Linked DNA regions of Homo sapiens. The protein of the gene in region 2 purifies or fractionates together with the protein of the main gene of each other region. This does not show direct contact. Each region holds a gene or a part of one and is shown on either strand. Other genes may lie near its edges. The genes, in order: CCNE2 and SCML2.

The links.
Region 1: the proteins of SCML2 (region 2) and CCNE2 purify together in Homo sapiens (pull-down; one study listed by IntAct). This does not show direct contact.

The regions. Positions count from the first base shown.
Region 1 is NC_000008.11:94,888,499-94,892,323, forward strand, and holds part of CCNE2 (G1/S-specific cyclin-E2), read right to left. Parts: intron 2,053-3,825; coding exon 1,917-2,052; intron 1-1,916. UniProt on the Homo sapiens protein: Essential for the control of the cell cycle at the late G1 and early S phase.
Region 2 is NC_000023.11:18,327,132-18,330,956, forward strand, and holds part of SCML2 (sex comb on midleg-like protein 2), read right to left. Parts: intron 3,525-3,825; coding exon 3,456-3,524; intron 1-3,455. UniProt on the Homo sapiens protein: Putative Polycomb group (PcG) protein. PcG proteins act by forming multiprotein complexes, which are required to maintain the transcriptionally repressive state of homeotic genes throughout development.

The DNA.
Region 1 (3,825 bases), on a different chromosome or scaffold from region 2:
TATCCCCATTTTGGAGGTGAGGAAATAGAGATATATACCAGAGTTTTTTTTTTTTTTGACAGGGTCTCACTTTGTCACCCAGGCTGGAGTGCAGTGGCTCACTGCAACCTCTGCCTCCCAGGTTCAGGCGATTCTCCTACCTCAGCCTCCTGAGTAGCTGAGATTACAGGTGTGTGCCACCATGCCCAGCTAATTTTTTGTATTTTTAGTAGAGATGGGATTTTGCCATGTTGGCCAGGCTGGTCTCAAACTCCTGGCTTCAACTGATCTGCCTGCCTCAGTCTCCCAAAGTGCTGGCATTACAGGTATGAGCCATCACACCTGGCCACATGAGTTTCTAATAATGAGTTAAGAAAATCTCTTTTGCTGGCCGAGTGCGGTGGCTCACATCTGTAATCCCAGCACTTTGGGAGGCCAAGGCGGGCGGATCACTTGAGGTCAGGAGTTCAAGACCAGCTTGGCCAATAGGGTGAAACCGCATCTCTATTAAAAATACAAAATATAGCAGGTGTGGTGGCCTGCGCCTGTAATCCCAGCTATGTGGGTGGCTGAGACAAGAGAGTCGCTTGAACGCGAGATGCAGAGGTTGCAGTGAGCTGAGATCGTGCCATTCCATTCTGGCCTGGGTGACAACAGCGAGGCTCCGTCTCAAAAAAAAAAAAAAGAATGTCGAATTTCAAAAAATGTCTTTTGCATCTATTGAGATCTTAGCATTTTTCTTATTTACTGTTAAGGTAATAAATTAATAGATTTTCAAATGTTGAATCAAGTTTGCATTCCTAGACTGAAGAATACACTAAGATAGAGTTTAACACTGCTGGATTTGATATATTCTGTATGCTGTTGCATACATAATCATATTTAGGTAAAAACAGGAACAAATTGAATTGGATAACCACTGGATGAATATCAGTATAACAAAAAGGAAACAAATTAAAAATTAACATAATTGTGCTTAAGTTGATTCCATGATCACTAGACAGTCAGAAAAAGTCAAAACCCAATGCCTTCTTGTGCCCACAATTAAAATACAATCTTTCCTTCTAGTCAGAATAAGGAAAAAGATGACCTGATGCAAAAGGATAACATTTTAGTCTTAAAAACTGTTCTGATAGCTTCTGAGATCTATTCTGCCATGTGTTCCTCCTCCAAAAAGTCTATGGTCTTTTTCCCTTAGAATGCTTCATCTCTTGTCTTAAAGACAGACTACAGAGCAAATATCCAAGAGTTGGAGGAAAAATCAGTTTGTCATCAACATAAGTAATGATTTCCTTAATAATAATTTTAGAAACTTTTTTAGAGCTATTATCCAGAGGAAAGGGAATGGACCTAAACAAGAGAGAAAAATCTGGCACAAATCTATAGGGGCTTCAGGATCACTATTCCTTTAAATTAATGGTATATTTCGGAAAAGAATAGAAGAATATAATAAAGAGAAGGTATCTGGACAATAGAGGGCGTAGAGCTTCCAGATATCCATAGTCTCATTATGGTTTAGGATATAGAAATCAGGATTCCTCATCATCATGATTTTGTTAATACAGAAAAAGACTTCAGAGGGCCCTGAAGCCTAGTTCTAGTTCTTCACTTTGTATAGCATAATTCAAAACCTAATCAACTATACATTCCATTCACCTTGAGTATCTGTGGCACCCAGAAAGTGGTTGGTACACAGCAGTATCCACAGGTAACAGGAATTCTGAATTGGGTTTAGTTATATGTAGTAGCTTTGTCATGGTTTTACTCTTATAGAGTCACTTTCCACTTTGGGTGCAATCAACTACAGTAAGTACCTCAAAAAAGACAGCTTCCTGGGGATGAACAATAAACTCTTGAGAGTACATAGAAAGCACATTTACAGCTAAATATGTTTCCATCATACAGAGACAAAGGAAATTTGTATTGCTGTAACATACCTCTAAAAGCCAGTCTAGAAGTATGGACCTCATCTGTGGTTCCAAGTCAGAATGCAGAACTTCAAAATGTTTGTCATGAACATATCTGCTCTCCTTTTTTAACATGTTTAGCCAGACTTCTTTTGAACATCCCCAGCTATGGAAAGAGAGGAAAAAAACCATATATATATATATATATTTTTTTTTTTTTTTTTTTGAGACAGAGTCTCGCTCTGTGGCCCAGGCTAGAGTGCAGCGGCACAATCTTGGCTCACTGTAATCTCCACCTCCTGGGTTCAAGCGATTCTTGTGCCTCAGCCTCCCAAGTAGCTGGGAGTTACAGGTGCCTGCCACCAAGCCTGGCTAGTTTTTGTATTTTTAGTAGAGATGGGGTTTCACCATGTTGGCTGGGCTAGTCTCGAACTCCTGGCCTCAAGTGATCGACCTGCCTCAGCCTCTCAAAGTGCTGGGATTACAGGCGTGACCCACCATGCCCGGCTAAAAAACATAATTTAAATTGTGCAATCCATGTAATATACAAACTCTGTTTCACATAGATAAAATTCAACTTTCAGACATTGAAATGCAACTTTTAATTAGAACTTGGAAGAAGCTCTTAAAGTAAATAAGAAAAAAAACTTCTGCCTTAATTTTTGGAAACAATTTCCTTTGCATGAATAAATAGAAGCCTGAAGTAACACAGTGGGAACCTGGACTATGATCATCCAAACCTGCAGATTTCAAGGGAGTGCTTTCTAGTTCCACTTATTTATACTTTACAAAGGTTGCTGTTAAAAGATAACCACGTTGCTTTTCCCATAAGTGGTCTGAAGTAATCTGTGAAAATAGCTGGCTATTCACTTTACCTGGAAAACCCCACAAAATCATGCAAATCAAGAGGTTCAAATCTTTGTGTTCACTGTAAGAACACTCGTGAAACTGCCCAGGCTATCAAGGGTATGCATATATGAAAAACCACAAAGTGGCCGGCACAGTGGCTCACACCTGTAATCCCTGCACTTTGGGAGGCCAAGGTGGGTGGATCACTTAAGGTCAGGAGTTCGAGACCAGCCTGGCCAACATGGTGAAACCCCGTCTCCACTAAAAATACAAAAAATTAGCTGGGCGTGGTGGCATGCTTGTAATCCCAGCTACTCAGGAGGCTGAGGCAGGAGAATCACTTGCACCCAGGAGGTGGAGGTTGCAGTGAGCCGAGATCGTGCCACTGCACTCCAGCCTGGGCAACAACAGCAAACCTCTGTCTCCAAAAAAAAAAAAAAAAAAAAACACCATGAAGTATTTTTAAAATGTCACTTTACAGAAACAGCATGTGCCATTCTGACATTACAATGGTGGAGTTGGTAGGTGTACCCAGGCCAAGCAGTGGGACTGGACACAAGGTTGGTGGCCCAAAAAGAGTGCTGAATTTTTGCTGCACATGCTTAAAAATGCAGAGAGTAATGCTGAACTTAAGAGTTTAGATGTAGATTCTCTGGTCATTGAGCATCTCCAAGTGAACAAAGCACCTACGATGTGCCAACGGACCTACAGAGCTCATGGTCGGATTAACTCACACGTGATCTCTCCCTGCCACATCGAAATGATCTTTAGTGAAAAGGAACAAATTGTTCCTAAACCAGAAGAGGCGGTTGCCCAGAAGAAAAAGATATCCCAGAAGAAACTGAAGAAACAAAAACTTATGGCACAGGAGTAAATTCAGCACTAAAATAAATGCAATTAAAAGTGAAAAAAAATGTTTTCTCAAGAGCAATACAAAAAAGTTAAACACATAAGGCATGTGATCACAGTCAAGAGAAGTCTCAATCACCTCTAAATAGATCATCTACAGCAGGATCACCTATGGGGTGGGTAAGGTGGGACAGAATGCAGGGAAAGGGGGATTGGTGAGTTTAAGTGTCTGATTCCATTA
Region 2 (3,825 bases):
GGCCGAGGTGGGCAGATCACCTGAGGTCAGGAGTTCCAGACCAGCCTGGCCAACATGGCGAAACCCCGTTTCTACTAAAAAAAAAAAAATTGCTGGGCATCGTGGCGGGTGCCTCCCAGCTACTTGGGAGGCTGAGGCAGGAGAATCGCTTGAACCCGGAAGGTGGAGGCGAAGGTTGCAGTGAGCCAAGATCGCGCCACTGCACTCCAGCCTGGGCAACCAGGGGGAGACTCCGTCTCAACAACAACAACAAAAAAAGAACAAAACAAAACATTTAGTTGGGATGGATGGATGTCATTAAGAAGTTGACACCCTGGAGGAAAATAGTGTAAGTCAGAAATAACAAGCAGGAAATGAATACCCAAAGAACTAACACTCTTCCATAAACCAATGACATTTGTAAAATTTTTCAGTAATATTAGAAAATACTTAATTCATCTCCATAACACAAATTTTTAAAATATTCTATTACCATTTGTGTCTGAATGGGCTACAATCTGAGCTAGCAAATCCTTTATACTAGTGCTCTACAATATAATTTTCTATCAAATTACTGGTTAATGACCATATGCAGCATTTGCCATTTGGAGCCTCAGGTTCGTTGGTTTTTGTTTGTTTTCTTTTCCCCTTTTTCCATAAGGCAAAATTCTTAATCATCTTGATAAAACTGTTCATCTTGGCTGCCCACGTGTTCATAACATAGGGGAAACACACAAAGCTCCAGGCTTTACTAATTTAGACTTGACACATCTACGTCAATACCACCATTGGAATTCCCAACCAGAAGCCAAAATAGTCAGAAAGTCTTAGTTAAGCCTGAGGTCCCAGTCTGCCTCTGCATCATGTCTTCATTGACAGACTGGGGATGGGGGCAGTATTCTATCTCAGAAGAGAGGCCTGGGAACTGATATGATTTTATATATATATCTCCTTGTGATCTGATTGTTATTCACATGTGCCCATGGTCTCTTCTTTTTTTATTTGTACTCTATTCTAGTCTACACATTAGCTCCAACATCTTTTTGTACTGAATATAACCCATATGAGCTCCCCTGGTCTTCTCTAGAGTAAATCAGAATCATGTCTTCCACCAGTGCTATCCTTGGGATCCCTTGCTATGTGAAGATGGGCAAAATACCTAGAGATAGAAGTTTCTCAGCTGAATGATCAGCATCCACTAATTCACAGCATTTATCACAACTACAATTAGGCATCTGTTAATTTCTATCTTGCCCACTAAGCTCAAAGAGGGTAAGAGGCTGGGTGCAGTGGCTCACACCTGTAATACCAGCACTTTGGGAGGCTGAGGCGGGCAGATCGCTTGAGCCCAGGAGTTCAATACCAGCCTGGGAAACACAGAGAGACCCCGTCTCTACAAAAAATTGTTAAAAATTGCCAGGCATGGTAGTGCACGCCTGTGGTCCCACATACTCGGGAGGCTGAAGTGAGAGGATCACTTGAGACCAGAAGGTCAAAGCTGCAATGAGCCATGATCATGCCACTGCACTCTGGCCTGCATGACAGAGTAAAACCTTGTCTCAATCAGTCAGTCAATAAAAGAGGGCAGGAATCATGTCTATATTGTTCGTAACTGGATTCCCATAGCAGGTCATCAGCATGTGCCAGGCACTGTCCTAGGTACTGCAGATGCATGAGTTAATAAAACAGATTAAAACCCTGGCTCTCTTGGAGCTTACCTTCTGGTAGTCACTCACTGATTTCTAAAATAGGATGTTAGGGCCCAGGCCTGAGAAGTATCTGCAGATGGCTATCAACTTAAGTAATCTATTTTTTTAATTAAATGTCTAGAATGGGAAAATCTATAGAGGCAGAAAGTAGACCTGTGTTTGCCTAGAGCTGGGGGAGACAGGAGGCACTAGGGAGAAATGGGGAGTACTGTTAATGGGTACAGGATTTCTTTTTAGGGGGATAAAAATGTTCTAAAATTGACTGTGGTGGTGGTTGCACAACTCTGTGAACATACTGAAAACCATTGAATTGTGCACTCTAAATAGGTGAATTATATGATATTTGAATTATAACTCAGTAAAGCTGTTATATTTTTAAAAACAGATGGAGAGGAGTTTGTAGGGATAAGGAACAGTCTAATTCAATGGCCTCCATTTCCTCAGAGGATTTGGGGGTCCCAGGGAAGAGTTGAAGAACAAATAAGGCCATGGTAAAGAAAGTTAAGGGAGCACTGAGGGCCCAGCTACAGTGAGAGAACAACAATTCCGTGGGGATTACCTCTATAGGCAATCTTCAAGTAGGAACAGAAGGTCATAGGGTGAACTGCTCTGCACTGGGGCTGGCAGGGCAGATACAACAGAAACACAAGGGGCAAGAAATCTCTGGAAATGTCTGGTAAAACAATAGTTTGCTACGTTATTTTTTAATGCCTTTTGTGTACATATGACTTATTTTCTCATTTAAGAGCAAGCCAATGCATCAGATTCTATTACATCTCCTGAGTGTCTCTGATGCAATATTATACATGTACTGTTCATAATAAGGAACATGAATTAATAAAGTTAACATTTACTGAACACTTACTATATGCCTAGGCATTATATTAGGTGCTTTAAATTCATTTCCTCTATTTATTTCCAGTAGTGCCATGAGATAAGTACTATCATTATCCCTGTGTTATAAAGAAGAAAAAAGAGCCGGGCACAGTGGCTCACGCCTGTAATCCCAGCATTTTGGGAGGTTGAGGCAAGTGGATCACCTGAGGTCAGAGGTTTGAGACCAGCCTAGCCAGCACAGTGAAACCCCATGTCTACTAAAAATACAAAAACTAGCCAGGCGTGGTGGTGCATGCCTGTAGTCCCAGCTACTCGGGAGGCTGAGGCACAAAAATCGCTTGAACCCGGAAGGTGGAGGTTGCAGTGAGCCAAGATCACACCACTGCACTCCAGCCTGGGTGACACAGCGAGACTCTGTCTCAAAGAAAGAAGAAGAAAAAACGTCTAAGAGCTGTTGAGTAATGTGCCCAAGGTCACCATGGCCAGTAAGGAGTGAGGACAGAATTCCAGAACACATCTGTCGGACTCACCACAATGCCTATAAGCTCTTAACCACTGAACTGTCTTCTGACCATGAAAAAAAAGCTTTCACATTGACTGTAACGTTAGAAGGGTTTTTGCTAATAACCAAATTATTTTAAATTGGTAATACATGGCAATTAATAACTAGATACCTATAATTTAGGAAAATTTGCACTGAAATATACAAAGTTACCCTTTTACTTAATCCGTGTCAACTTATCTCTAAGTAAAATTTTCAAAATAAAATACAATTTTTGACCTTTCTTATTACATTTTGTATTTACAGAAGTTTACAGTATACAGACTGTACAATAAGAAATCAAAACAATAAGAAAATTTGCACTTAAAGTTAATTTTAACACTAGTGAGGAAGAAAACTATGCTGTATTAAATTACTTTAAAACCTACCCCTTTGTACAGAAGATGTACTTGACTGAGGAGTTTTCTCTTGATTCTCCTTCTTGACATCCATGGAATCTAATAAAAAAGAAAATAGCAATACTGGGAGTCCACAGCAACAGCTTGAAAGAGCACTCAGAAAAATATAAATTAAAAAACTTTAAAGAGCCAATTTTAGTTTTATAATATCTTCATTTTCTATGTAGGACTTACCATTTTCTAATGTACTATGCATTTTATAATCTGCTCATTTATTGTCTCACTCTACTCAAATGAAATCTCCAAAAGGGCAGAGATTTATTTATTTTATTGTCTATCTCATTCACTGTGGTATCCTCAAGCGCCTAAAACAGGACCTGGCATCGCAACACTCTCAAGC